Linked DNA regions of Homo sapiens. The protein of the gene in region 6 purifies or fractionates together with the protein of the main gene of each other region. This does not show direct contact. Each region holds a gene or a part of one and is shown on either strand. Other genes may lie near its edges. The genes, in order: CPVL, NDUFA13, E2F6, SAMD13, GRHL1, L3MBTL3 and P4HA1.

What was found.
Region 1: the proteins of L3MBTL3 (region 6) and CPVL purify together in Homo sapiens (affinity purification with mass spectrometry; one large-scale study listed by BioGRID and IntAct). This does not show direct contact.
Region 2: the proteins of L3MBTL3 (region 6) and NDUFA13 purify together in Homo sapiens (affinity purification with mass spectrometry; one large-scale study listed by BioGRID and IntAct). This does not show direct contact.
Region 3: the proteins of L3MBTL3 (region 6) and E2F6 purify together in Homo sapiens (co-immunoprecipitation; one study listed by IntAct). This does not show direct contact.
Region 4: the proteins of L3MBTL3 (region 6) and SAMD13 purify together in Homo sapiens (affinity purification with mass spectrometry; 4 studies listed by BioGRID and IntAct, with this or other methods). This does not show direct contact.
Region 5: the proteins of L3MBTL3 (region 6) and GRHL1 purify together in Homo sapiens (co-immunoprecipitation; one large-scale study listed by IntAct). This does not show direct contact.
Region 7: the proteins of L3MBTL3 (region 6) and P4HA1 purify together in Homo sapiens (affinity purification with mass spectrometry; 2 studies listed by BioGRID and IntAct, with this or other methods). This does not show direct contact.

What each region holds. Positions count from the first base shown.
Region 1 is NC_000007.14:28,996,202-29,000,154, forward strand, and holds part of CPVL (probable serine carboxypeptidase CPVL isoform b precursor), read right to left. Parts: intron 51-3,953; exon of another isoform or gene 1-50. UniProt on the Homo sapiens protein: May be involved in the digestion of phagocytosed particles in the lysosome, participation in an inflammatory protease cascade, and trimming of peptides for antigen presentation.
Region 2 is NC_000019.10:19,522,397-19,526,349, reverse strand, and holds part of NDUFA13 (NADH dehydrogenase [ubiquinone] 1 alpha subcomplex subunit 13), read right to left. Parts: intron 169-3,953; coding exon 90-168; intron 1-89. UniProt on the Homo sapiens protein: Accessory subunit of the mitochondrial membrane respiratory chain NADH dehydrogenase (Complex I), that is believed not to be involved in catalysis. Complex I functions in the transfer of electrons from NADH to the respiratory chain.
Region 3 is NC_000002.12:11,456,121-11,460,073, forward strand, and holds part of E2F6 (transcription factor E2F6), read right to left. Parts: intron 2,233-3,953; exon of another isoform or gene 2,173-2,232; coding exon of another isoform or gene 2,161-2,172; intron 1,114-2,160; coding exon 1,059-1,113; intron 1-1,058. UniProt on the Homo sapiens protein: Inhibitor of E2F-dependent transcription. Binds DNA cooperatively with DP proteins through the E2 recognition site, 5'-TTTC[CG]CGC-3'. Has a preference for the 5'-TTTCCCGC-3' E2F recognition site.
Region 4 is NC_000001.11:84,300,333-84,304,860, reverse strand, and holds the start of SAMD13 (sterile alpha motif domain-containing protein 13), read right to left. Parts: upstream 3,154-4,528; 5' UTR 3,060-3,153; intron 2,211-3,059; exon of another isoform or gene 2,171-2,210; intron 1,659-2,170; coding exon of another isoform or gene 1,627-1,658; coding exon 1,574-1,626; intron 1-1,573.
Region 5 is NC_000002.12:9,992,895-9,996,847, forward strand, and holds part of GRHL1 (grainyhead-like protein 1 homolog), read left to right. Parts: intron 1-80; exon of another isoform or gene 81-312; coding exon 313-350; exon of another isoform or gene 351-2,984; coding exon 2,985-3,076; exon of another isoform or gene 3,077-3,421; coding exon 3,422-3,507; exon of another isoform or gene 3,508-3,533; intron 3,534-3,953. UniProt on the Homo sapiens protein: Transcription factor involved in epithelial development. Binds directly to the consensus DNA sequence 5'-AACCGGTT-3'.
Region 6 is NC_000006.12:130,133,483-130,137,435, forward strand, and holds part of L3MBTL3 (lethal(3)malignant brain tumor-like protein 3), read left to right. Parts: coding exon 1-139; intron 140-360; coding exon 361-423; intron 424-3,953. UniProt on the Homo sapiens protein: Is a negative regulator of Notch target genes expression, required for RBPJ-mediated transcriptional repression. It recruits KDM1A to Notch-responsive elements and promotes KDM1A-mediated H3K4me demethylation.
Region 7 is NC_000010.11:73,048,201-73,052,153, forward strand, and holds part of P4HA1 (prolyl 4-hydroxylase subunit alpha-1 isoform 2 precursor), read right to left. Parts: intron 3,050-3,953; coding exon 2,853-3,049; intron 1-2,852. UniProt on the Homo sapiens protein: Catalyzes the post-translational formation of 4-hydroxyproline in -Xaa-Pro-Gly- sequences in collagens and other proteins.

The DNA.
Region 1 (3,953 bases), on a different chromosome or scaffold from region 6:
CACTGCAAGTGTTACCTGGTGAGGCCCACCTCCAGCCCACTACTTCTGGGGTATGTGAGGTCTGCCTGCAATGGGGTGGATTGTCTACTTAATTCCACCCTTCAGTTAGCCAGCCCAATTGTCCCTCACACTGAGCCATACCTTCCATTTTAGCCTTTATCAGTAATGAAGGGGAAATTTTGGTTCTCAAAAAAATTAAAAAACCAAAAACATCCTTGACTGAGGCAGGAAGATGACCTGAACCCAGGAGTTGGAGTCTGCAGTGAGCTAGGATCATGCCACATGCACTGCACTCCAGCCTGGTTGACAGAATGAGACCCCATCTCTTAAAAAAAAAAACCAAAAAACAAAAAAAAAAAAAACAAAACAAAAAACTTGACACTTGAAATGAAAGAAAGTCATGTTTTGAGCAGCATAGAGTTAGAACATTCTTTTTTTTCCTAATATTGGATTATAAAACATTTTAAAACATAGCAAATTCGAAAACAATTCATATAGTGACGATTTTGAGTCATGAACTTTCACTTTACTTGCTTTCTCACATAAGGGTGCCTCTATGCATCCCACACCCATCCACTAATCCATCTTATATTTTTGACACATCTCAAAGTAAAATGGGCATGTAGTGCACTTCCCCCACACACTTCAGCATCACATTATTCATCAGAGTTCAACATGTGTTTACAGATTTTCTTCTTTTGAGTCAAGTTAAGATACAATGAAATGCGCTAGTCTTAAGTGTAGACTCACCAGTTCTGACAAATGCAGACACCTACGTAACCCAAGCCCTTGTTGGGTGATATAAAGCATTCCTAAAACATCTCTAATGATGAGATCCAATCAGCAAAAGGGGACTGGTCTCTGTACTCGTTAAGCCTCTAGCGTCAGCTAATATTCCAAGTAGAGGGAAACGGGAAGCTGTCATGATTCAGTGCCAAAAGGGCAAGGACTGACACTGAGTGTTGGGAAGTTACATGCAGGAGAGGTCAGCCTGGCCTGAGATGTCTCGTTCCATATGTGGAGAATGGACAGGAGGTACCAGTGCATGAAGTGAATAAACGTATGCAAAAAGGACATCACTTTCAGTAACTTCTAGCTGCAGAATCACGATCAGCAATTAAAGGTCACCTTCACAAGGCCCTTCCTAAGAGGCTGGGTTCTTCTACTTGTCTCAATCTGAAGGAAACTGAGGCAGAAAAAGTATATTTGGATAGTACATTTATTATATTGAAAATCTGCCCCTATATCCCAACACCCTCCATCTTACAACCTTGACGTGCAGTAAGTAGGATTAACACTATTAGATGATATTTACCTTGCAGCTCGCAGCTATACAAGCTGTGCACTGAACAACTACAGGGAGCACCATTCACATGAGCATTGAGATGACTGAGCTATTTGGAATTATTCAGTGGCTTGTCCAAGTCACACAATTGTTAAGTGAGATAACTAGCTAGAACCCTGACTTCTGATGCAAACACCGGTGTGGTGTTTTTAATCAAACCCTCTACTCAATCATTCCTTATCTTTGAACTGAAATTTGCAGCTTAGTCACGGAACATTTTTATTCACCTCTCAATAGCCCTCTGAGGTTTATTGATGAAAAAAATTATTGCAGATATAAACATAATTTTCTGTATTTTTGTATTTCACATATTACAGTGAGGGAGGCAGATCCCATTTGCAGATGTGGGACCAGACTTAACTCTTTCACATGCAAATGTGAAACTTTTGTGTTTTGCTGCAGTTGATCAATGGTCATTTGTGCCTCACTGCAATGACTGTGAAACCCATCTACCATTTGTGTAGAAGCTTGCAACTGGAAACCCAGCATGCCCACTTTTTATCACAAACTGAAAGTAAACATGTGTGACAAGAACCCCTTCATAGGACTCCAGAGGGAAACTTTTGCCGCCCCGCAATCCCAGGCTAGACATTTCTTCCTGCAGATTTTCATCCATATCTTTGGCCCTGGCAGGAATCTGATGAGTGATTTCTGTGCAGCTTCAGCTCAGCTGAGGACACTTAACAAAGTCATATGTGTGACAAAACCCAGCTGCTTCAACTGGAAATGAGTTTGGCAGCAATGGTCCGGAACACCAATAAATTGAATACCCAAGAGCTAAAGGTCATCCTGCCCCCAGAACCAGTGCTGCAGCTAACAAAGGACAAACAAAGGATAGCACAGTGCTTCACAGCCTGGGCTCAGAAGTCAGAGTGCAGGAGCATGGCAAGAGGCACTGCACGTTGTGTGACCTTGGGCAAGGAACTTAACCTCACTGAGCCTCAGGTTCCTTTACTTTACAATTGGGAAACAAGTATTACCTCGTGGGGTAGTTGTGAGTTGTGTGAGGAGTTAGTGGAATAATGTCCCTGGAATACTTAGCACAGTGCCCGGCCTGGGATGGTCTTCAGTAAATATTGGTCATTTTCGTTATTCTTCCAACACTTATCTATATTGAAAATCCAGAATCAAAATGCCTATATCAGGAGGATTGCTTGAGATCAGGAGGATCGCTTGATTGCAGGAGTTTGAGGCTACAGTGAGCTGACTGAGCCACTGCACTCCAGCCTGGGCAACAAAAGGAGATCCCATCTCTAAATATAAATGAATATATATGTATATATGCTTATATGAACCTAAACTACCCTAGAACATGGTGTTCCTACATTTTCATAAAAAACCTTGGTTTAAAAAAGGTTGTTTAAAACAATGGTTCTTGGCTGGGTGCAGTGGCTCATGCCTGTAATCCCAACACTTTGGGAGGCTGAGGTGGGCGGATCATTTGAGGTCAGGAGTTTGAAAGAGCCTGGCCAACATGGCGAAACCCTGCCTCTACTAAAAATTAAAAAAAAAAAAATTAGCCAGGCATGGTGATGCACGCCTGTAATCCCAACTACTGGGGAGGCTGAAGCAGGAGAATCACTTGAACCTGGGAGGCAGAGGTTGCAGTGAGCTAAGATGGCACCACTGCACTCCAGCCTGGGCGACAGAGTGAGACTCCACCTCAAAAACAAACGAAAAAACAAAACAATGACTCTCAAATTTGAACGTGCATAAAAATACCTGAGCTCATTAAAAGAGATCGTGAGGCATCACCTCCAGACTTTCCAATTCGGAAGGTCCAGGGCAGGGCCTAAGAATTTGCATATCTAACAATTCCAAAGCAATGCTGATGCTGTTGTTCCAACTGCTTGTTGAAAACCACTGTTGAGAATTTTTTTCTACTCTGTGGCAAACCAGGGAATTCTCTGTTTACATCAAGGTAATTTGATTAACACCTACTCATGAATACAAGTAGAAATTTGTTTAATACCTACTCATGACCTCACTTCCTGGGTATCCGCTCTCCTGGTATTTACTCACGCACATGCGCACTCACACACACCTTCCCTGTCCATAATTATCAAGTGGTGAAGGAGCGCTGAAGGGGTCAGGTGTTCTTACTCTTCCTCTCAGTGACCTACCTGACCCTGGTCCAATTTCTGAGCTGCCATGTGTAATGACCCTAATGGCATTGTAAATTGTGTCATTAATATTGCGGGAAGAGAAAGCTTGTTAAGGGACAAAGTTGTTTCACATGCCACAAAATTCCCAAACAAAGCATATTCTTAAGCAGATTCACATACAGCATTTTACTGATATTAACTTCAAAAATAAATATATTTTTGAGTGTGGAAAAATAAACCACTCTTGTTTATAATCAAGCCACTCACCATTCACAAATCAAAGATAACAGACCACTTGGCAGCTTTTAGAGGTGAGTAACAAAATGTGTCAGGGCTGTAATTACGTATTTAAATGTGACAAGATTAATCTCAGGGCTCCCTGAATAGAACTGTCTATTTTGGGTGCCTCCACACTAGAGCTGCAGCCTCTAACTTCATGTGTTCCAGATGTTCCAGGGGGTCACAAATGTGTCATGAATTTCAACAGGGTTATACAAACACTT
Region 2 (3,953 bases), on a different chromosome or scaffold from region 6:
CTCGCCAGCACAGACAACAGCGGAATGCTACAGGACCCCGACAACTCGCCGGGGGGGCACTTTCAGACAACGCCCACCAGGGGCCCTACCTGCGCTCACGGTTCCACTTCATTATGCTCCAGTGCCCGTAGATCAGGGTTCCAATCCCTATGGCCAGCATGCTGTAGCCTGTGAAGAGAGGCGCTGCTCAGCGGGCCAGCCCGCCCCCAGACACCCTCCTCCACAGCTCCAGGCGCTGCCCACTCTGCAATCAGGGGACACTGGCGGCTTCTCAGGAGTGAGGCTGCTTGGACTGTGACACCTCTGCCCCCATGCCAGGGGTTTTCTGAAAGGTACAAGCCAGGCAGCAACCTCAGGAGGCCTGAGGGTCTAGATGGTGGTTGCTAGGGGGGCCCCAGGTCCATCGTGTTCTAGAAGGCTGTTTGGACCCTGGGCGGCAGGCTGGCCCTGAAGTGGAAGGGCAGTTCTGACAGTGTCCATGGTGGCTCCCGGCCACCTGGGCCACAGTTCCGCGTGCTGCCCTGCGGGGGCTGCACACAGCTGCCAGGGACAGGCAGTGCCCTGTGGGGGCTGCCCAGCCACCCCCCGGACTCTAGGGGTGGCCGTGCTACCTCTTGGCTCTGCAGGGTGAAGCCCCCTGCCCTGCACCCCAGGAAGGACCTAGGCCATCATGAATATTTACTGAGCACCAGTGGGGCCTTGCTCTAATCCTGACTGACAGGCTGGGGGCCCACTGGGATCTTCAGAGAGGCCTGGGCTGTCTGGGATCTGGCTCCCAGGCTCACCCTGCACCCTCCAGATCCTTCCAGCCCCAGTCTCTTCTCTGGACAGGCTTTGCACTTGGTGGGATGAATGAAAAGCTCAGGTAGGCCAGGCTCCAGTCAACACCCAGGAAATGACCAGCAGGTGGAAGGCAAGGCCATCTCCAGGCCTCCAGGGCACTGGCCCTGCTCTATGCCTGCTGGGGCTACTCTGTGCCTGCCGGGCCCTGCTCTGCACCTGTCATGCTCTTCTGCCTTCAGCTCTGCTCCAGCATGGAGCTCACGGGGGCACCTCTGCTAGACCCGGAGATAAATGAGAAACTGGCTCAAATTTGTACCTGGTTATTTAACCTGTTAGAAGCCCAAGTCAGGGCTAAGACATTTCCATACTACAGGTAATGAGGGTGTGCTGGGTCCGGGCTCAGAGGCACATCTCTGGAGAGGCCCAGGGTGCTCAGGGCCAGCTCCCAGCTCTCAGCCTCCTGTCTAGCACATGGGAGGTTTCATCAGCTGCCTTGTTCATTTTTTTTTCCTTTTTTGGTTTTTGGTTTTGAGACAAGGTCTCACTCTGCTACCCAGGCTGGAGTGCAGGGGCGCAATCATGGCTCAATGCAGCCTCCAACTCCTGGGTTCAAGTGATCCTTCCACTTTAGCCTCCCGAGTAACTGGGACCCCAGGTGTGTGCCATGTCCAGTTAACTAATTTTTGTACAGATGGGGTCTTGCTATATTGCCCAGGCTGGTCATATCTCGTTCTTTTCTTTTTTTTAATTAATTTATTTTTGAGACGGAATCTCACTCTGTTGCCCTGGCTGGGGTGCAGTGGCAAGATCTTGGCTCACTGCAACCTCTGCCTCCTGGGTTCAAGCGATTCTTCCACCTCAGCCTCCGGAGTAGTTGGGACTACAGGCGCCCACCACCACGCCAGGCTAATTTTTGTATTTTTAGTAGAGACAGGGTTTCACCATATTGGCCAGGCTGGTTACGACCTCCTGACCTCATGATCCACCTGCAAGTGCTGGCATTACAGGCGTGAGCCACCGTGCCCGGCCATATCTCATTATTTTCCACGGCTACAGAGAACCCAGGGGACAGACCTGGGCTGCCCTCAGCCTTCTGGTGCAGAAAATGGGCCCTTGGGGAGAACCTGCACCCTCACACCTGCGCACTCATACGCAGGCCCATCTGTAAGATAAATTCCAAAGAAGAAATAAATTCCAAAACTTATCCCACAGCTGTGTGTACAAGACAGCGTGGCACTGGCATAGAACAGAGATGTATGAGATGACAGAAACAATGCAGGGCCTCTTGTATTTGCATGCAGCCTGCACAGGGCTCTTCCTCCTCGCCAACCACAGGGGGGCCAAGGCCCCAGGCCTCAGAGTCTGTGCCTTAGGAACTGCTAGTCTGGTGGGGAACATGGTGAGGGGCACGCACAAAAGGGTGTGTGGACCATTCTTTTTGTTTTTGGTTTTGGAGACCGGGCCTCTCTCTGTTGTCCAGGCTGGAGTGCAGTGGTGGGATCAAATTTTTTCGGCTCACGCTTGTAATCCCAGCATTTTGGGAGGCTGAGGTGAGAGGATCACTTGACTAGGAGTTTGCAACTAGCCTGTGCAACACAGTGAAACATTTACAAAATACGTATTTTATTTTATTTTTTGAGACAAAGTCTCGCTCTGTAGCCCAGGCTAAAGTGCAGTGGTGCGATCTCAGCCCACTGCAACCTCCGCCTCCCAGGTTCAAGTGATTTTCCTGCCTCAGCTTCCTGAATAGCTGGAATTACAGGTGCACGCCACTGTGCCCAGCTAAATTTTTGTATTTTTTAGTAGAGACGAGGTTTCACCATGTTGGCCAGGCTGGTCTGGAACTCCCAACCTCAGGTAAATCCATCTTCCTCGGCCTCCCAAAGTGCTAGGATTACAGGCATGAGCCACCATGCCCGGCCCAAAATACATATTTTTAAATTAGCTAGATGTGGTGGCACGTATCTGTGGTCCCACCTACTTGGGTGGCTGAAGTGGGAGTATCACTTAAGCCCAAGAAGTCAAGGTTGCAGTGGGCTGAGATGGCACCACTGTACTCCAGCCTAGGTGACAGAGAAAACTTTGTTTCAGAAAACAAAACCAAAAACAAAAACAAAAAAAAAAGAAAAATATATTTTTCATAGAAACAGGGTCTTGCTATGTTGCCCAGGCTGGTCTTGAACTCCTGGCCTCAAGCAATCCTCCCACCTCAGCCTCCCAGAGTGTTGGGACTACCAGTATGAGCCACTGAGCCCGGCCTTGGCCATTCTTAAGAGAAGACCAAAATAAATAAAAACCCATCCTGTGTTCAAGAATTGGAGCACTTAGCATTGTGCAGATGGCAACGCTGTGCAAACTGATACAGATTTGAAACGCAATCCCCATCAGAATCCCAACCATTTCTTTTCCTGTTGCAGAAACTGACAAGCAGGTTGGGAAATTCATATGGAAATGCAAGGGACCAGAACAGCCAAAACAATTTTGAAAAAGAACAAAGTTGAAAGACTCACACTTCAGTATTTCAAAACTTATCCCACAGCTGTGTGTACAAGACAGTGTGGCACTGGCATAGGACAGAGATGTTCATCAATGGAACAGAACTGAGAGTCCAGAAATAAACCCTCACATTTATGGTCAATTGATTTTGGACAAAGGTGCCAAGATAATTCAATGGGAGAGAAAACAGTCTTTTCAACAAATGGGATAACCAGACAGCCACATGCTAAAGAATGAGGATGCGTTCCTTCTTTATACCATCCACAAAAATTAACTCAAAAGGATCAAAGACCTGCCGGGCGCAGTGGCTCACGCCTGTAATTCTAGCACTTTGGGAGGCCAAGGCAGGCGGATCACGAGGTCAGGAGATCGAGACCATCCTGGCTAACACGGTGAAACCCTGTCTCTACTAAAAATACAAAAAATTAGCCGGGCGTGGTGGCTGGCACTTGTAGTCCCCGCTACTCAGGAGGCTGAGGCAGGAGAATGGCGTGAACCCGGGAGGCGGAGCTTGCAGTGAGCCTAGATCGCGCCACTGCACTCCAGCCTGTGTGACAGAGCAAGGCTCCATCTCAAAAAAAAAAAAAAAAAAAGGATCAAAGACCTAAGCGTAAGAGCTGAAACTATAATACTCTTAGAAGAAAATGTAAGTCACTCTCTGTGACCTCAAACTA
Region 3 (3,953 bases), on a different chromosome or scaffold from region 6:
CTGCTCTGTCTACCCATTCTCTACTGCCTTGTTTCTTTTAATATGAAGTGGCTTATGAATTTAATGCAAACACTTAAAATCAAATATACAAGGAATCAGGGTTTTCTCTACATGTAAAAGAGCGTCACTGAAGAACTTAGGTTGAATGATATCATAATCCAATTTCTGTATTAGACAAATCCCCCTGGATTTTTCCAGCATCCAGGTTGGAAAGCCTGGAAGCTGACTGCCTTCTAAGAAGGAGACCCAGCAACTTCAGCTACAGAGGAAGTTAGACCCTGAACGAGAAGAAGCAATTCAACGTTGTGGTAAAGACTCTGGGCTCTTGCGTCAGAGAGGTAAGAGATTCAACCCTGACTCTGAGCAACTCACCTCAGCCTCTCTGGGCCTTTATAAAGTAAGAATTCTAATCCATACCTATATTTTGAAAGGTCATTGTGACAATCCATGCAGAGAGCTTAATGCAGTGCCAGGCACTGTATGAGCTCAATAAATGTTAGATATTATTATAAATTGGTGGTATGGGACAGATGCAAGAAACACATCAAAGGTGAAGCTGACCAAACTCAGTGACCAACTATGGGTGAGACTGGGGCAGGCACTGAGGCAAAACTAAGGGTGAGTATTTCTAAGATTCACACTGACTTATCGATGCACTATGTATCCACTGAGATTAGGAAGCTGAGGTGGGGCGGTCTATCATGGAAACTTCCAGAAGAGGGAACTAGAGCCATTTACATCCTATCGCCTCTAACAGATACCCTAAACATTAACCTAAGATAAGGGACAAGAAGGAAAGAGTACATTTCTCTCCCAGGAGGAATTCTGAGAAAATAGCCTTAAATACAGACTGTTCTATGGAGAATAAACTGGCATTTGTGCACATGATTCAACCCATAACCTCAGGAGTTGTTACTAAAACTTGCAACTTTACATTTCAGTGTACACATAACAAATTGTATTTCAGTTTCTCATCAACTCATACACTTAAACAAATCATTTTAATCATAAGAAGTTCAAACTAACAAAACCTAAAACCTATTCAGGAATCAACTTACTTCTCATGGACACATATTGTACATTATCTTCTAAATTAATCCTTATTTTTGATGGCTGAAAAAAAAGATAAAAAATTTAACTTAGTGATTTTAAAACAACAATGCAAACAAATAGCATTTTACTCAATAGTATAAAGGTCTGGGAATATGAATATGATAATTACTGGCTGGGCAGAGGCTCACGCCTGTAATCCCAGCACTTTGGGAGGCCGAGGCAGGTGCATCACTGAGGTGAGGAGTTCGAGACCAGCCTGGCCAACATGGTGAAACCCCATCTCGACTAAAAATACAAAAATTAGCCGGGCGTGGTGGCAGGCACCTGTAGTCCCAGCTACTTGGGAGGCTGTGGCAAGAGAATCGCTTGAATCTAGGAGGTGGAGGTTGCAGTGAGCCAAGATCATGCCACTGCACTCCAGCCTGGGCAACACAGCAAGACTCCGTCTCAAAAAACAAAACAAAACAAAAAAACATGCACACACACACAAAATATACTGAATACATCAGGTACGATCATTACAACACTGTCCCTGACTTGGGAAAGCTTAGTAGAGATAGAAGATCTATCTCAACCAACACATGCTCACTCCTTGCTATTATTAAGTACACGTGGTTCCCCAAAATTTGCTCACAAGCTTTCATAGGCAGCTATGCATTCCCATTATAATTAATGTAAAAACAGCAGCATTTCTAACAATGGAAAACAATGCATGCTGTGGGTAACTAGAAACTTTTGCGTTAGATAAAAAGTTTCTTTTAAATTCCTGAAACAACCAGGAAATTAGTAGAAGCTCCATTATCAATGCTCACCATTTTACCAGCTATTTAGAGGCTCTGAAAGTTTGCATAAAACTGGTAGTAACATTTAGAAACTGTTTTTCTGTAAAAAATAAATAAAATGAAACCAAACCTTAAAATGAAAGCCTATGAACAGAAACTCCTAGTAACATCAATGTTAATGTGCCTCCAGACAGGCTGTCATCAGGTTTAGCTCTTATCTAAGAAAAAACTGGCCATAAAGCAAAACTGGGGCAAGTGAATTCATAGGTACTCTAAGAAGAGAATCAACAGCAGTACTAGGGATACACCCAGACAGGGAACTCACAGAAGGATTCATGGCGAAGGCAGCCCTCAGCTGAGCCTAGCCCAGCAAGCCAGATTTGCCTGAATAAACAACTGTGGGGAGAGAAGAAAAAAGACAGGATTGTGGTACCGGAAATGAACAAAGGTGTGAAGATGTATATGGCATGGCATGTTTCTGGGAACCCACTGAAGTGGCCAGTGTGTAAGTGACTTGACTTTGAAGCTGGGAGGGCATGCTGGCACCACATAAAACTAATGCTAAAGAGTTTGGACTTTATGTCATAACCAGTAGAGAATCACCAAAGGTTTCTGAACCAGACTAGGACATAATTAAGTAAATGGTTTAGAAATATAAGTATGGCAGCAATATGGCAAAAGGACTGGGAAATGAGGAAGCCTGAAGGCAAGGTGAGCAGTTAAGAAGCTCTTTGTTTATACTGGTGTTAACAATATCCTCGGCACAATGATTTCCTTATCATCTATGACAAGATGATAGCATCTATTAACAAATCACCCCAATATGGAATACTCCCATTGAGACAGAATCCCACTGTAAAATTAATTTAGTTGTTAGAATTGAACACGTAGACCTGCTAGGGCATGCAACACTGGAGCTGGGAATGCTGGCCTTGGGGGTAGGGACTAGGTCTGGCCAGCTCTCTCAAACAGTGCTGACAATGGTGACTTGCAAACATGGTATCCAACAGTGAAACTCTGAAGCAGTCCTATCAAAGTCAGACATTAGACAAGTGTGACCAACTGCCATTGCTATTTTTACATTTAACCCCTCTGCTAATAGTATGAGACGGGCCAGCTACGGTAGCAAGATTCTTGAATGGAAAAAAAAAAAATCCATCCTTATCACATTGATTTGAAACACACATAAACAAACATCCTAAATCCTTATATATAAGCTCAGAGGGGCCTTGCTGCAGAGGTTCCCGTTCTTAATTCAGAGTAGCAGGCCCAGGACTTACACACTCTACTTACTGGCTCCCAAAGAGGCTGCCTCGCTAGCTATGCATTCTAGGGTGTCTTCTCTGCTACACACCTCCCTACCCATCTCATCTAGACAGTGGATCACAGGTTGGTACAGAAATAACACCTCAGTTAGGCATAATATGAAAAAAGATGGCTTTGTTTTCCCCACTCTTTGCTATCAATGCAGTTCCATTACATATTGGCTATACTGATGTATGTGGGAAAACAGTCTCCAAGAGCATTCATTTGTTTTTTTTTCCTCTTCAAATACAAAAACACTCTATCTTGGAGGAATCACAACAGTACCATTGCCCCTCAGTGGCAGACATCATATACAGACATATAGATAGAAACATAAGTCCAGGCGCGGTGGCTCATGCCTGTAATCCCAGGACTTTGGGAGGCGGGGTGGGGGGAGGAGATCACAAGGTCAGGAGTTCAAGACCAGCCTGGCCAACATAGTGAAATCCCCGTCTCTACTAAAAATACAAAAAATTAGCTGGGGGTGGTGGTGGGCACCTGTAATAAAAGCTACTTGGGAGGCTGAGGCAGGAGAATCGCTTGAACCCGGGAGGCAGGGGTTGCAGTGAGCTGAGATCGTGCCATTGCACTCCAGCCCAGATGACGGTGCGAGACTCCGTCTCAAAAAAAAAAAAGATGATAAATAGGCAGATTGTTTGCATGCTAGCTGCAAAATGAATGGAGAAGTCAGAGGCTTACAAAATGAAAATCACTCAGGCTGATCTTGTGCCCTGACAGAGTATACAGCTCTCTAGGAACCAGCATCTTCTGGGGCAAGTCAGCATATTTTTTCAAATTCCAAGCTATTTCACC
Region 4 (4,528 bases), on a different chromosome or scaffold from region 6:
AAAAAGTAATGATATATTGATATACACAATAACATGGATAAATCCCAAATTAATTATGCTGAGTGACAGAAACTATATGTGTGTGTGTGGGGGCGGGGGATGTATACACATTCATTTATATAAAATTCTAGAAGAAGCAAACTAATTTATAATGACAGCATAACAGTGGTTGCCAGGGGATATGGGGGCAGAAAAGGACAGGAGGGAGAGATTACAAAAGGTCGTAAGGAAATTTTGGAAGTGATGGAAATATTTGTCATCTTAATTGTGGCAGTAGTTTCAAGAGGGGATAAAAATATCAAAACTTACTTTACACACATGCAATTTATTATGCAAGGATTATACTTCAGTAAAGCTGCTAATTTTAAAACTAATTACAATTAAGTAAAATTAAAAGTTCAGTTTCTTACTTAAACTAGTCACATTTCATATTCTTCGTAGCCACATGTGGCTAGTGGCTACCATTTTAGACAGCACAAATACAGAACATTTCCATCATTGTTGAAAGTACTGTTGGATAACACTGATCTAACTCACACATAAAACAGCATCTGTTTCTTTCATTTCTCCTCCACCTACCTACCCCAAACTTTAGGGATGGTAATCAGCATGGCAGTATGGCACTGATATATAAATTACCCGAGAACTTTAAAAAACAGATTTTATTAAGTTAGTTTTAATGTAACTTTGCTGTGAAGCAAAATATACCTTCTATTCATAAACATATAGCACACTGTTTCCTCATTTAGATATCACAGCTTCTATGGATTATATTTAATTAGTTTCCTCCAAAGCTCAAGTTGACGGCAATTTTAAACTAAATGATATGGAAAGAAATGAAACAGATAACTCCCTCTTGGAACTCACTTTCTCCTTGTAATCAAAGTACTTATTGCTTTGCTATAACTCCTAAGTGAGAATATACATTTTTCATATACTCATAAATATCAAAATATTATGTTACATGTGCAATTGAATTTTCCCATTTAAAATAATCAAATATATAACTCTTACATGACACATATAAACACAAGTTTCAAATGTGAGAACAGACTTTAAAATAAACACCATGTATGCACAGAAATGTTTCACATTCATTAAACAGTTCATAAAATTAGGACGGAGGAGTTGTTAAACTATATTCTTACTGAAGCTTTTTCCCTTCCTGCACTATAGCTCTTAGTTTTCAGAGTTAGAGGTGATTGTATTTCAAAAAAAAAATTTGAACTCTATTTTCTGCCCCCATTCTGTGTTGTCTATGGAAGAGTCTCTGCTTGGAGTTTTTGTTTCAATATACAGAATGCAGGGCTGAAATCCTCAACCATCCTTGTTCCAAAGCCTGATACACAAACCTTTCATATATATTTTGATGTCTGAGTCATCTCTGTCTTAGAAATGCAATACAGAAAAAGGTAACTGGGGTAGGGGGGAGAAGGGAGGCTGCTGGCCAGTGTAGACAAACCAAGGCGACCCCCAAACTGTGTATTGTAGTAGATAAGCAAGAAGTACGAAAATAGAAACTAAGTCCCTCTGTTGTTTGCAGAAGCAGAACTCAGAAGCCAGCTTCACTTACTTTTTTACACCGACAGAGCCATTTTCCTTGTTTTCCATGTCAACAGATAGCATGGGAAGGCTGCAGGGTTCCTTTACTTCAGCAACTAATCAATAAGGGAGAAAAGCTTGTGTTTAATTCTTAGAAAGTGAGAGAAGAATATATATTCTGAATCGGAAACATAATGGTCCCTTTTACAGCTTCACACCAGTTCACGTATGTTTGTTTAAATCTCCAGTTCCCTCGGCGATTGGAGAGATGTGATTAAACCTAAAGAACTGGAGGAGACGGATTGGGGTGCTTTCATCTGTACTGGCACTCCCTGCCTTGACAATAAGCATTTGCAAATGAAATTGAATCCTCGTTGAAAACAAGTGCTGTGTGAACTGGCACAGCTTCTTCTGGGTGCCTAGCTCTCACTTAAGACACTGCAACTCATAAATGAGTCAAAGTAGAGAAAAACAATCCCCCTTTTCCTGCCCCCCTCCCATTATGGGCTTTGATTTGTTTTTTCTTATTGTGTTTGGTTTTTTTTTTGTCCACTCCCCCTTGCTCCTAGATTTTTTCATTGCAATGCAGAAGGACACTTAAAGCTTTTGTCAGCAAGTATTCCCCTACCTCACATTCTCAACGAAAGCCTCAAAAACCCGTCTGTGAGATGGCCATGCTGTGGTAAAGCAGGAAGCTCACAAAAAATGCCAGATAGCCCTTAGCACAGAAAGGTGGTGCTGGTGTGTGTGTGTGTGTGTGTGTGTGTGTGTGTGTGTATGTGTAAGAAAGAGTAGGTAACTCATTAGATTTATGAAAAATCATCAAAACATTTAAGGAGATATTGTAGCATCCATCACTCTGTCTTTTTGTTTAGTAGGATGAGGGCTGTGGAAAATTAAAAGCCTTCCACAATTAATATGCAATTAGCAAAATGAAAAAGCTACGAACAAAACTGCTTTAAGAAAAAAAAAAAAAAAAAAGGAAGAAACAGTCCCGAAACGTGTTTGCTCTTATTCAGCTGAAGCCATAAATTAAATACATTTCCACTCAAATCACTTTATACTTCGGCACTCCTTCTCTAGGGATTACTCTGACATGGCAAGTGCATCATTTAGTATATTCGCAAGATTTTATCACTGTTAGAGAAGTAGATGATTAACAAATAACACTGTAAGTGTGGGATAATTTTCACTCCTGAAACACACACATACACACAAACTTCCAGCTGCAAACCACTTAGATCATTGATAGAGAAATCCAACATTTAATATATATATATAGATATTAGCATACATTCACACACCGTTAGAGAGTAGACAGGAAGATAGTGCTGCTGCTCCATGCTAACAGAATATGATTTCACTTCAGTTGGAAACTGTTACACATTCACCATTTTCTAAGCATCTCAGAAAACAAAACAAAACACTCACAATGATACTCTGCAACACCACACTACATTGTCTTATTATTATTACTATTATTTTCTTTTCTGTGGAAGAGTAAAAAGAAAACCTACCTATAAGCAACTAAAAAATATCATTTTTTATAGGCTTATCAAGAACAGCCAAAGAAACCCCAATGTTTTCTTTCACAAAGTAGGCTGGCAAAGGAATTCAATAAGGAGGTACAATTTGACACAGTGAAATAAAACCAGGCTGGCTCTCAGCCAACATGACGTTAGGAATCACACACAAGCTGCACCAACTGCCTTCTGGTTCATGGCTGACTTTTTAAAGCTACAGTGTGCCTGTTCACTTTTGCTAACTACCTTCAGCACAATTAGTGCAAGAAATGAGTAAGGAGTCCAAAACCTGCAGAATTCTCCCTGCACCTGTCTTGTACAAAGAAAAACAAGCTGTCTCAATAGCTTCTTATTTTCTCCCTCCCCTTCATTGTTGCTGCATGATAGGTCTTAGCTGTTGTTCTGAGCATGAATGTCATGTTTCAAACTATTTCCTTTTCTCCCCAGAGGGAAAAATAAGAGTGAGAAGCCAGTGCTTATGGGCTATAACCAGAGAACACTCGGAAGCTGCAGTCCCATGTTACTCTTTTTTTCCTAATAGAGATTCATGGACAAAGTTCCCAGGGCTGGCTTTTAAGTAATCTCTTTGTGAGAATAAGGAAAGCACTGCCCAGCAGCAAATCCTTTTACTTCATTATGCAGGAAGTAACATATTTCGGAAAGGATGCAAAATAGATGACCAGATCTCCTGAAAACGCCCACATTCTTTTATTTTGGCATTTATCCTGCCAAATGAAGCCAGCAAAAATTCAAACTGAAACAAACAAAACCTTATTCTACAAAACGAAAACAATTAGTTCTGGGAGGTTTAATTTTAACTGTTTATCCCAGTTGGACAAAAAGCATAATTCAAGAAATTTAACCAACACTTACAATCTATGAGTACCCGGTACTATATTAGTTACATATGAATAGAAAGACATTATGCCCACCCCAAAATTCATAGTCTCTCCCGCCATCATCCTAAATACCAAATCAGAAAACTGGGAGGTGGAGCAGAGAGGCTGGGCAAGATCTTTTGTTTAAGTTACCCTGGTCATTCTCACAGTTCCCTTGCTTGGCTTAAACCACTTTTCCAGGAGAATAATCTCATCCCATTAATGTTCTGCACATACACAGAAAACATACATGGTTGCCTCTTCATTGAAATAAACATCAATCAACATTTGGACACTTTTAGGTCAAGATGGTCAACAAAACCACTCAAGACAGGGCACAGAACACAGGTTCCCCAGAAAGATCCTGGAAAAAGTTATCACTTGCTGTAATATCCTGTAGAATTCAGGTAGAATCTGAGGAAAAAGCTGCCTGCTTCCCTTTTTAAAAATAATCTTTTAGGACATTAGGAGATTACCTTTGATCTAAATTTGGAACCTGAATTTCAAGGTCAAAAAATTTGTTCTTTACTTATTCCAGGAATTATATTAGAAATTTTTGACTTCCTTGAAGATCAGTGCCAAGAA
Region 5 (3,953 bases), on a different chromosome or scaffold from region 6:
GTGGTCTCCACTGTGCTGCTCAGTGCTGCCGAACTAGTGCACACATGGCCATAAGCAGCATGTGAATGAATGAGCGTGGCTTTGTTTCAGTAAAGACTTTATTTACATGAACTGGCTTTAGACCAGATTTGGCCCAACCACTGAGTTAAAGGAGTTCAAGACATCTGTAAGAATCTGTTATTGAAAACTAAGGCTAAAGGATTTTATATTAGATTGGTGAAATTCAAAATTATTTCCATTTTAGGAATAATTCATTTATGGCCAAACATTTTGAGCATACATTTGAAAAGCAATCTATTCCTTTGGTCTTAGGTCCTTCCCATTGCCTCTGAAGAATTGGAGGGTGAAGGGTAAGATTTATGTTTTGTTTTGTTTTGTTTTAATAATGGAAATGATTTCAAACTTGTAGAAAAACTGCAAGTACAGTACAAAGAACTCATTTTTCCCTGAGCCATCAAGGATAAGTTGCCAGCCTGATGGCCCATCACTCCTGAATATCGTGGTATATATTTCCTACCAACAAGGACATCCTCCTGTGTCACAGTCAAGATTAGAATATTAACATTGCTTCATTAGCACCAATAATGTCCTTTATAGCAAAAAAGGATCCAGTTCAGGATCACACATTGTAGTTGTTTGTCATGTTTGTTGATCTTCTTCAGTCTAGAACTAAGCCACTCCTTAACTTTTCTGACCAAATATTTTTGAAGATTACAACCAGCTGTTTTGTAGACTCTTCTTAGTTTGCGTGTGTCTGCTGCTCTCTCATGGTTAGATTCCAGGCCTGGCAGGGATGTCATAGAGGCCAGGCTGGGTTCTCCGTGTGTCCTAGCAGATGGCGCTTGATGTCAGTTTATCTGTTACTAATGGTGTTCTTTGGTCACTTGATTAAGCTGGTATCTGCCAGCTTCTCCACTGCAAAGTGGCTCCTTTTATAGTAAGTGTTGTCTGGGGAGGTGCATTGTAGCTTTGTAAATATCTCATTCCCCATCAAACTTTCAGTTTACTCGTTCATTTATTGCTATCAGTATGAACTCATAGTTTCCTGTTTTATTCAATAAGCTGTGATTCATTAGTCATTTACTTTGATGCTCAGGTTGTCCCAGAATTGGGCTCTGCCTTCCTGTGCCGGGCAGCCCCCTACTCATGCTGCCTAGTGGAGGGGGGCTGACGCTACCCCTCTTTGGGCTATCAGAACCTTCTTGATGGCTCTGGGACTTTTTCAACAAGGCAAAGATTCTTTTTGTTTTTATTTCATTTTACTTTTAGAGACAGGGTCTTGCTCTGAGGCCCATGTAGGAGTGCAGGGGTGCAGTCACAGCTCACTGCAGCCTTGAGCTTCTGGGCTTAAGTGATCCTCCTGCCTCAGACTCCTGAGTAGGTGGGACTACAGGCACATGCCACCACACCCATCTAATTATTATTATTATTATTATTATTATTATTATTATTATTATTGTAGAGATCCTGGTCTCAGGCAATCCTCCCGCCTCAGCCTCCCTCTTTCTGTTATCTGCCCTCAGAAAGGTGCATCCTGATGGAGAGAGCCAAGATTTCCATGGGAAGTTCATTCCTCAGCATCCCTCTTCCCTCATCTTCCATCCATTCCCAGGGCTTAAACCGTCATACTGGGGACATTCATGCCCCACACGTTACCCATCGTGCCTCTCTTTGAAGGCGAGGCCTGCACTGCCCCTTTGATTCTTAGTGTTTCAGGCTTGAGTCCTGCCGGCACTTTCACTAGACGGCTGCTGTGTGTTAGGAACTGAGGTGGCAGAGTCTCGGAGGCTCAGCCCCTGCTCCTGAAGTGGCCATTCTGCTCCAAATCCAGCACTCCCTCCCTTCACTTTCAGTTATCTACCTCTTCTCTTGCTTGCCGTGACACCACCTGCTGGACCCTCCATGCCAGGTGCCCCTGGTAGCCAGGCGTTCGTTCGATCTGAGTTTTTCTCTCCTCAGACTCTCCTTGGTCTGTTCTCACCTTTTGGCTTCCATGATACCACCATATTTTAAACCTGTGGAATCCTGTGCTCGGATTATACCAGCCTCCTTCCCCTGGTTTTTCTGCTTGAAGGTCCTGGGGTCCCCTCCAGTCTTGACCACACACTTTGGGTACCAACACACTTTGGGTACCACACTCAGTCTCACAGACCTTTCAACTATTCCCTCTTCTCTGCCATGTAAAATTTAATTCCTTAGAGCTGAATGATCAGGACATTCACGGTAGAGTCGGCTTCCCGAAATTTCTAGATATGGCTTCCTGTGGGCCATTCTGTTTGAGCCAGGCTGGCCCTGCATTTTCCTGCTCACACTTCCTCAGTGTTTTGAAACATCATCTCCTTTGTCACTGCCTGTACAAGGTTATCTCAGATCCTGCCTCCTCCATAGAGTGTTTCCTGAAAAGAAGCACCAGACAGCCAGGCGTGGTGGATCATGCCTATAATTCCAGCACTTTGGGAGGCCAAGGTAGGAAGATCGCTTGAGCCCAGGAATTTGAGAACATCCTGGGCAACATAGGGAGAACCCATCTCTACAAAAATAAAAAAATTAGTTGGGTGTGGTGGTGTGCGCCACTTGGGAGGCTGAGGTGGAAGGATTGCTTGGGCCTGGGCGGTTGAGGCTGCAGTGAGCCGTGATCCATGATTGCACCACTGCACTCCAGCCTGAGCAACAGAATGAGACCCTGTCTCACAAAAAAAAAAAAAAACCAAAGCGCCTCATCTTCGAGAAGGCAGCTTTATCTGATGAGAGTGCAGATACCTGCAGGGAACCTGAGTGTGGTCCCATGTCTGCCTGTAAATATCCATGAGCCCTGGAGTCAGGATCTTCCTTTAGCCTGATTTTTCATCCACAAATAAGGAAGCTGGACCAGATAAAGAATGAAAGTCATTTTAAATCTAGTTCCATGACAGGCTCTAAAACACCTTAATGTTGATGCAGCTGGTTAAGTTGAATCACTAACGGCATATTTTGGATCACTGCAGCTCTGTCTTGAAAAGGGGGCCGTACGGCACAGAAGATGACTTTGCTGTCCCTCCTTCTACCAAGCTGGCCCGGATAGAAGAACCAAAGAGAGGTGTGTTCGTTTCCATTTCTTAGTGGGAGTTTTAAATCAGAAGTGAGTTCAGAATCTATCAAAAGCATAAATGGTTCAAGCACATTTTTCCCAGTTTCACTTGCTTGGGAATTCTTCCATCAGACTGACATCTAGCTTGAGCTAGGACTTAGAGCAAAGTTCAGAGAAGCTGAAACCTGTGTTCCTTAAGACAGAATTGATATTGGCTGATGCTTGTCATCCTTGATGTGAATGTGGTTTTTATTTTAGCTGGTACCGTGGTCTGTTTTCCTCTTTTGCTCATGTGAACTGTATCCTTTTTTTCCTCTCTTTTCCCTTCCTTATTCCTGGTTGGGGATTGATTAGTGCTGCTCTACGTTCGAAAGGAGTCAGAAGAAGTCTTTGATGCCCTGATGCTCAAAACCCCATCTTTGAAGGGCTTGATGGAAGCTGTAAGTAGGATCAACTCTGTAATCCCCTGTACAAAATGAAAGGACAAGTACATAGGATTTCATTGAAACACTTTATCAGATGATCCAAATCCTTTGTCAGACCTTCTGGAATCCCTGACACCTTTCTCGAGTCGTCGTGCGTCCCACATTTTATCCTCACCCAGGGGTCTTAACTCACACAGTCACTCAGTCACACCTGTTCCACTGAAGTGAATGCATCTGTGATGGCCTATGAAATGTTTAATTTTTATATACGTGGTTAAAGGGAGATTGCCATTTAGCAAGCCACTTAGAAGCTAACAAAAGTGATTTTTAATCAAGTACAATCTTAAAAACTTCATACATAAAAACAGTGGCTCCTCAGTCTACCTTTAAAACTCCCAATCCTAGGAAATTACTGAACTTGCATCAAGACCTCACTACAGCCTATTGCAGAGAAAGTAGAC
Region 6 (3,953 bases):
ACAGCGTCGGTCAGCTGTCTTTCTGTCCTTTAAGTCCCCAATTCCATGTCTGCCCTTGCGCTGGGAGCAGCAAAGCAAACTTCTTCCAACTGTCGCAGGAATCCCTGCCAGTAAAGTTTCCAAATGGAGCACAGACGAGGTATATTTTATTTTCTTTGCTGCCCGACACCAGATACAGGATTACTGGCTTAAGAGGTGTGGAACATTGAGCGTAGGTAGCGTTTAGTCTTTTTTTTTCTGAAAGAGAAGAAATTATTGTGAGAGAAATAACTAATGCATATGGGTTAAATGTTTTGAACCTGTAGCATTTAGATTCTGACTGTGTTTTTTAACTGGGAATTTTGATATTGCTTTTGACAGGTGTCAGAATTTATACAGAGCTTACCTGGGTGTGAAGAACATGGAAAGGTATTTAAAGATGAAGTAAGTATTCCACTAAATTGCAATATGTTACTTAATGGGATCAAAGCACTGAAATGCAGTGGAAGGTGAAATGTGTGGAATTGGCAGAGTCAAAAAGAGATGGGGTGTGTTGAAATTGACAAATTGATGTATACTAACAGGCAGTATGAATCAGTTGTATAAAAATGTCTTTGTATAAGATGAGATGCATAAGAATGTTTGTGAGTACCATTTTATGATACCCCACAGCAGTAACACTAGGCTCCTTATAAAAAGAAAACCCACAGAACTTAATAGCATGCATTTATATAGTTTATAGCACAGAGGAAGCCAAAGAAAGAAAGAAGCAACATTTTCTCTTTTTAATAAAGTGAAATTAGTTTCCATTATTTTATTTTCCAGTGTCATTCTAACAACACCATGATTGACTCCATTTGAGGTTTATAATAAGTAATATTAGCATTATGTCTAAAAAAATCCCTTAAGTCATATACATTCCTCAATAATGTTTATAATAAGATATTTATCACAGTCCACTTTTGGAAGATTATTTTATTAGTTGTTTTCAACTCCCTCTCCAAAACTTCAATATAAGGGGTGATTAAGAATGATATCACTTACAGTGAGCACTAGAATAAAAAGGAATCTGGTTTCTAACTTTTAATTCTGTAAGCGTACAGCAGGAGACCCTTTTCAGTAGAGACCTTTAAAAATAAGCCACTTGCCTGTCATCTCCTCCAAGCAAAGCAGTCAATTACCCCTCTGATTTTGGCTGTGTCTACTCCTGCCAGAAGGCAGAAAGTAGACTGAGTAATCTCAGAAGGTGCTCTCCAACATCTGCTGTCTACAGTTACACGCATACACAACTTGTTTGCCCCTATGTGTAAAGCTCAACTGTTAAGAACAGCACACTTTCCATTTCATTGCAGGAGTATAGACACAGCTAACAATCCAGCCACCAGTTGTCAGTGTTGTTATACTGTTAGGTATAATTTATGCGTTAGATGAAAGCTTGTTAAAATGCACAAGGATCTGATTTCCAACATCCTTTTTCTGATTTATGTTCTTATTGTGCAAAGGTTTTATTTTCTCTCTGTTTGATCTTTAATTGGCAGTTATTCAGATTTTCTTTCCCTAAGTCCTGAGTGTCTTCACTGATACTCTCAATTCATTTTCTGTTTTTTCCTTTTTTTTTTTTTTTTTTTTAAATCGAGATGGAGTCTTGCTCTTCTCTCCTGGGCTAGAGTGCTCACTGCAACCTCCGCCTCCTGGCAGAGGCGATTCTCCTGCCTCAGCCACCTGAGTAGCTGGGATTACAGGTGCCCGCCACCACGCTCGGCTAATTTTTTTTGTATTTTTAGTAGAGACTTGGTTTCACCGTGTTGGCCAGGCTGGTCTCGAACTCCTGACCTCAGGTGATCTGCCCACCTCGGCCTCCCAAAGTGCTGAGATTACAGACGTGAGCCACCGTGCCCAGCCTGAATTCATTCTGTATCGCTGAGCAGACTTAGAGCCACATAGGGAGCTGTTGGTCTGTCTTGGAAAATGTCATGTTGTCATTACCTTTGAAAATAATAAAGCATTTTTGAAAATAAATTTATAATGCATCTCTTTTATAACTTCTGTTTTTTTATTCTGTTGTTATCTAGATAATCCCTATAGGTTTGCTCTATTATTCAGTTTGAGTAAGATTCAAGTTTAAATTCAAAATGAGATGCTATTTTTTGAGTAATTTTTTTTATTCATGGCAGATTGTCTTTGGAGATGTTCCTCAGTTACCAAATATGCTCAAAGCTAGATCCTTTTCTGGAGGAGTGAGATAGTTAATATTCTCTGTCGATATGAATTATTCATTCATTTACTCCTTCATTCATTCATCTTGTGCACATTTGTTAAATTCCGACCATGAGTATGTTACTTTGTGTCATGCTCTTGTGAGAAGGATGATTCGAAAATAATGAAACCTAGTCCTTGTTCTCAAGTGTCTCACAAGGTCAGTGGGTTTGGGTTTTGAGTCCTACAAGTAAACCATAGTACAAATCTAACCGAAGTCTTATAAATCATCTTTAAAAGGCAAAGGACAAGTATTCAGATAGGCTGTTGTTGGAAATTATCCTTGACTTCTCTCTTACACATGCCACATCTCATCTGTTGAAAATCCTATTGGGTGTATCTTTGAAACATGTAAAACCCTTATCACCCTACTGCCACCACCACCCTGGTCTGCGCCACCATCCTCTCCCACTTGGATTAGTGCAGTAACCTCCAAACTCATTTTCCTGCTTCTGTTTTTGCTCCTCTACAGTCTATTCCCAGCACAGCCAAGGTTACCCTGCTGAAACATAAGTCAAACCATGTCACTCCTCTGTTCAGGTCCTTCCAATAGCTTCATCTCTCAATCAGAGTAAAAGCAGAAGTCCTTACAAGGGCCTGCAGTCTGACACCTCATTACCTCTCTTGCCCCCTGGCTTTTTGTTTACACTGCCCCTCACGAGTCTACGTGCTGGCCTCCTTGCTCTTCCTCTGATTGTCCAGGCTTGCTCCCGCTCCTCCTTCTGCACAGAACACTCTTCCTCCAGATGTTCATGTGGCTCACTTCTTCTGCTCAGATGCCAGCTTGCCAATTAGTCCTGCCCTGACTTTCTTACTTGAAATTGCCTCTTGTCACCACACATGCATCCCTGCTCCTGCTGCCCATTCATCTTCCTAGTCAGCTCTGTTTAATCATAGCACAAATCACCTTTTTTTTTTGAGACAGAGCCTCACTCTGTCGCCCAGGCTGGAGTGTAGTGGCACAATATTAGCTCACTGCAACCTCTGCCTCCCAGGTTCAAGCTATTCTCATGCTTCAGCCTCCCAAGTAGCTGGGACTGCAGGTGCGTGCCACCACACCCGGCTAATTTTTGTATTTTTAGTAGAGATGTGGTTTCACCATATTGGCCACACTGGTCTTGAACTCCTGACCTCAAGTGATCCACTGACTTCAGCCTCCCAAAGTGCTGCAATTACACTCATGAGCCGCTGCTCCTGGCCAACATGAGTCACTTTCTAACTTACTAATTAATTGGCTTACTTAGTATGTTTATTGGCTTATGGTCTGTCTACCACTTCTAGAATGTAAATTCCACAAAAAGTTTTTTGCTTGCTTGGTTTTATTTGTTTTATTCCCTGCTATATGTCTAAGCCCAAGAAGAGTGTTTGGAATATAATAGACATTCAGTATATTTTTGTTGAGTGAATACATTCATGCCTTTACACTCTGAGAAAGACTCACTCAGACAGAGCATGTCACTGTGGTTTCGAGTTAAGGCATTGGAAAAGAACAAATAGTGAATAGTGGAAAGGGCAGTGAAATGGAAGGCCAGAGCTCCTGAATTCCAAATCCCTCTCCTTTGTTTTAGGCCATTAGCAAGACACCTAATGTCTGGAATAATGGCATTGTATATGCATTGCAGAAGCTAACCGAAAAAAAAGTAAGCCTTGTAATACATTGCAGTGGTCACTGTTGTTCTTAGGATGTACTTTCCTGAATTAAGTTGACTTCCTTCCAA
Region 7 (3,953 bases), on a different chromosome or scaffold from region 6:
AATTTTTAGTAAGTCTTTTATATAATGATGAGATGAATGTAGCTATTCTGAGAAAAAGAATTTTTTGTTTTTGTTTTTGTTTAGACAAAGTCTTGCTCTGTTACCCAGGCTGCACTGCAATGCCTTGATCTCGGCTCACTGCAGCCTCTGCCTCCTGGGTTCAAGCAATTCTCCTGCCTCAGCCTCCCAAGTAGCTGAGATTACAGGCCCCTGCCACCATGCTCGGCTAACTTTTTGTATTTTTAGTAGAGATGGGGTTTCACCATGTTGGCCAGGCTGGTCTTGAACTCCTGACCTCAGGTGATCCACCCACCTTGGCCTCCCAAAGTGCTGAGATTACAGGCATGAGCCATCGTGCCTGGCAAGAATGTTCTTTTGATCTTAGGCAAAGTTGAGTATGTGTTACATTAACAAACCGGGAAATTAGCAGACTCTTTGTTTTATATCTACAGTTTTATTTTGTTCCTTAAGAGTTATTAAGAGCAATAAAAATTTCTGCTTACTGCGGAAATTTGAACACTAGATATTTGATATTACAAAACTTGTGAATTTTTAGGTGATAATGGTATTGTAGTTATTTTGAATTTGTATCTTTAAAAGATACATACTAAAATATTTAGTAATGAAACAGAAAAGAAAATGTTTAATGAGGGAACAGGTGCAGTGGCTCACGCCTGTAATCCCAGCACTTTGGGAGGCCGAGGCAGGCGGATCACGAGGTCAGGAGATCAAGACCATCCTGGCTAACAAGGTGAAACCCCATCTCTACTAAAAATACAAAAAATTAGCTGGGCGTGGTGGCAGGCGCCCGTAGTCCCAGCTACTCAGGAGGCTGAGGCAGGAGAATGGCGTGAACCCAGGGGCCGAAATGGCGCCACTGCACTCTAGCCTGAGCAACAGAGCGAGACTCCGTCTCAGAGAAAAAAAAAAGAAAATAATGAGTCTAACAGTGTCACCATCTTTGTATTTACTCATTAGCTCAAGCATGTCCTCCTAGGACTCCATGAACCTATCTATTGAAAGTGTCACCATACGTATTGTATACTTTGCTGTTAGTGGTTAAGCTGTCAACAGTCATCAATATCGAAATGCAAAGCCCAGCTTGAGTTTACCAGTAGTAAAGAAAATGTTAAACACTTTTCAAATGTTTACACCTAAAAGTACTTACTCCAAAAATTCACTAACTCCTTCTATGCAAGCCTGTGTTCAACTGAAAACTAATACCACATGAAATTCCTTTTCAAAAGGTTCCATAATCAATTAATATTGAGAAAGAATGTATATCATATCACAATGCACATTATCATAAAAAGGTTCTGAGAAGTTTTGAGGCTAAACAAAAACCTATGTTCAACTTTGTTTAACAAATGTTCCCCAGACTTTGTTCTTTTTGCTTTTGGCCTAGTATCTATTAACATCTATAGAACTGGAATTCTGAGTTATAAATACATATACAATAAACAAAGTAATATTTATAGATATATTTTAAAGAAATATTAAAGACAAAATCTGTTGAAAACTTTCTGCATTTTCAGTATTAAACAGACTAAAGCATTTCACTAAGCAATCTTGTGAAGATTAACTAGGAGCAAAACTACAAGGGATTATTGTATAGATGAATCTGTTGTATCTCATAAGATGCACAGAGTAGTGTTATTGTCTCTAATTAAGGCTGCTGAACAGATGAGTGTGGTGGCTGACGCCTGTAATCCCAGCACTTTAGGAGGCCGAGGCGGGAGGATCACCTGAGGTCAGGAGTTTGAGACCAGCCTGGCCAACATAAGGAAACCCCGTCTTTACTAAAAATACAAAAAAGTTAGCCGGGCATGGTGGCGAATGCCTGTAGTCCCAGCTACTTGGGAGGCTGAAGCACAAGAATTGCTTGAACCCAGGAGGCGGAGGTTGCAGTGAGCCGAGACTGCGCTACCGCATTCCAGCCTGGGTGATAGGGTGGGTTTCTGTCTCAAAAAAAAAAAAAAAAATACTGCTGAAATCTCTCTTGCATTAAATATAAAAAAAACTATCACTTCCTTTAAACTTATTTGATCCTTCACCCTGGAAGGATCAAATGAAAAAGGTAATATTGCCCCAAACATATGTAATAGTATATGATTCACAAGCTTTATTTTAAAGCTATTTTACTAATAATTGGAACATATTAAATGTGGCACCCACAGAGAGAGAATGGTATACTGTAATTTTTTTTTTAAAGTTTTTTAGGCTGGGCACAGCAGCTCACGCCTGTAATCCCACCACTTTGGGAGACCAAGGCAGGTGGATCACAAGGTCAGGAGTTTGAGACCAGCCTGGCCAACATGGTGAAACCCCATCTCTACTAAAAATACAAAAATTAGCCGGGTATGGTGGCGGGCACCTGTAATCCCAGCTACTCAGGAGGCTGAGGCAGGTGAATCGCTTGAACCCAAGAGGCGGAATTTGCAGTGAGCCGAGATCATGCCACTGCACTCTAGCCTGGGTGGCAGGGTGAGACTCCATCTCAAAAAAAAAAAAAAAAGTTTTTTAGAGACAGGGTCTTATTCTGTAGCCCAGGCTGGAGTGCAGTGGTGTAATCATAACTCACTGTGCCCCTGAACTCCTGGTTCAAGTGATCCTCCCACCTCAGACTCCTGAGTAGCTAAGACTACAAGTGTACACCAGCATGCCCAGCTAATTTTTAAATTTTTTTGTAATGGGGTCTATGTTGCCTAAGCTGACATACTGTAATATTTTATGCAGTCATTCTGATTTTTATCACATAGGCTTAAATATAAAATAACTGATTCTCTCCAGAACTGTGTACAAACACATACACACACACATTCACATACACACAATTGGCTTTTCCACTTTACCATTTTGATACCCTCCCCACGGCACAGCATTTCGTACTTCTGTCTCTCTGGCAGGTAATCCACAGCAACCCCTTTTTTCTTTGGTGTAGTTTTCTGATCAGATTGGTCATCTGAAGCAGACTTATTGACATCTTTTTCTTTAGCCATTATATACTCAAAATATTTTAAGTTACCATTAGCTCTCTGATGTTCAGGATCTATTAGAAGAGAAACAAAGCATGTCCATGGGTAAGTTCATGCTTGTTCAAGCATCAGAATATAGTAATATAAAAATAGGAGACATTATAATTTATCTTCCAAACCAGGTTGCTGTTGTGAGTGAAAGGAGGCACTAATAAAAATTATTATACCAAAATAATAGGTATAAGTTACTACTGCCCCCAAGTAAATCAGGACATATAGTCACCTATATAAAAACAGTTCTGGGCCAGGCCTGGTGGCTCACACCTGTAATCCCAGCATTTTGGGAGACTGAGGTGGGTGGATCACCTCAGGTCAGGAGTTCGAGACCAGCCTGACCAACATAGTGAAACCTCGTCTCTACTAAAAATACAAAATTAGCTGGGCGTGGTGGTGGGTGCTTGCAATCCCAGCTACTCAGGAGGCTGAGGCAGGAGAATCACTTGAACCCGGGAGGCGGGGGTTGCAGTGAGCCGAGATCATGCCATTGCACTCCAGCCTGGGCAAAAGGAGTGAAACCCTGTCTCAAAAAAGACAGTTCTGGAGACAGAAACAGCTATTTATTTAAAGGTGGCAACTGGTGCTTTTACTTTGAGAATTTACTAATCAGCTAAAGGAACTAAGTTCAATTTGATGTCAAATGAAGTTTAAAATCTTACTCATCCTACTTATTTTAAGAAATGAAAAAGATTTTTCCAAGACAGAAAAACAATCACATGAGGAAGACAGGGGATAAGCAATTCAAAAGCAACCTTTACCACAGATACATTATAAATGTAGCCTACTTCTAAGGGCTGAGTGAAGTTCAGTCCCAAATTTCTAAGTAAGAAGGAAAAGGGAAACTAAAGATATAATTTTCGAATAAGCTGGAATCCACTAACTGCCTCAGAATTGCTAGTCATAATTTTGAACTACCTTTTA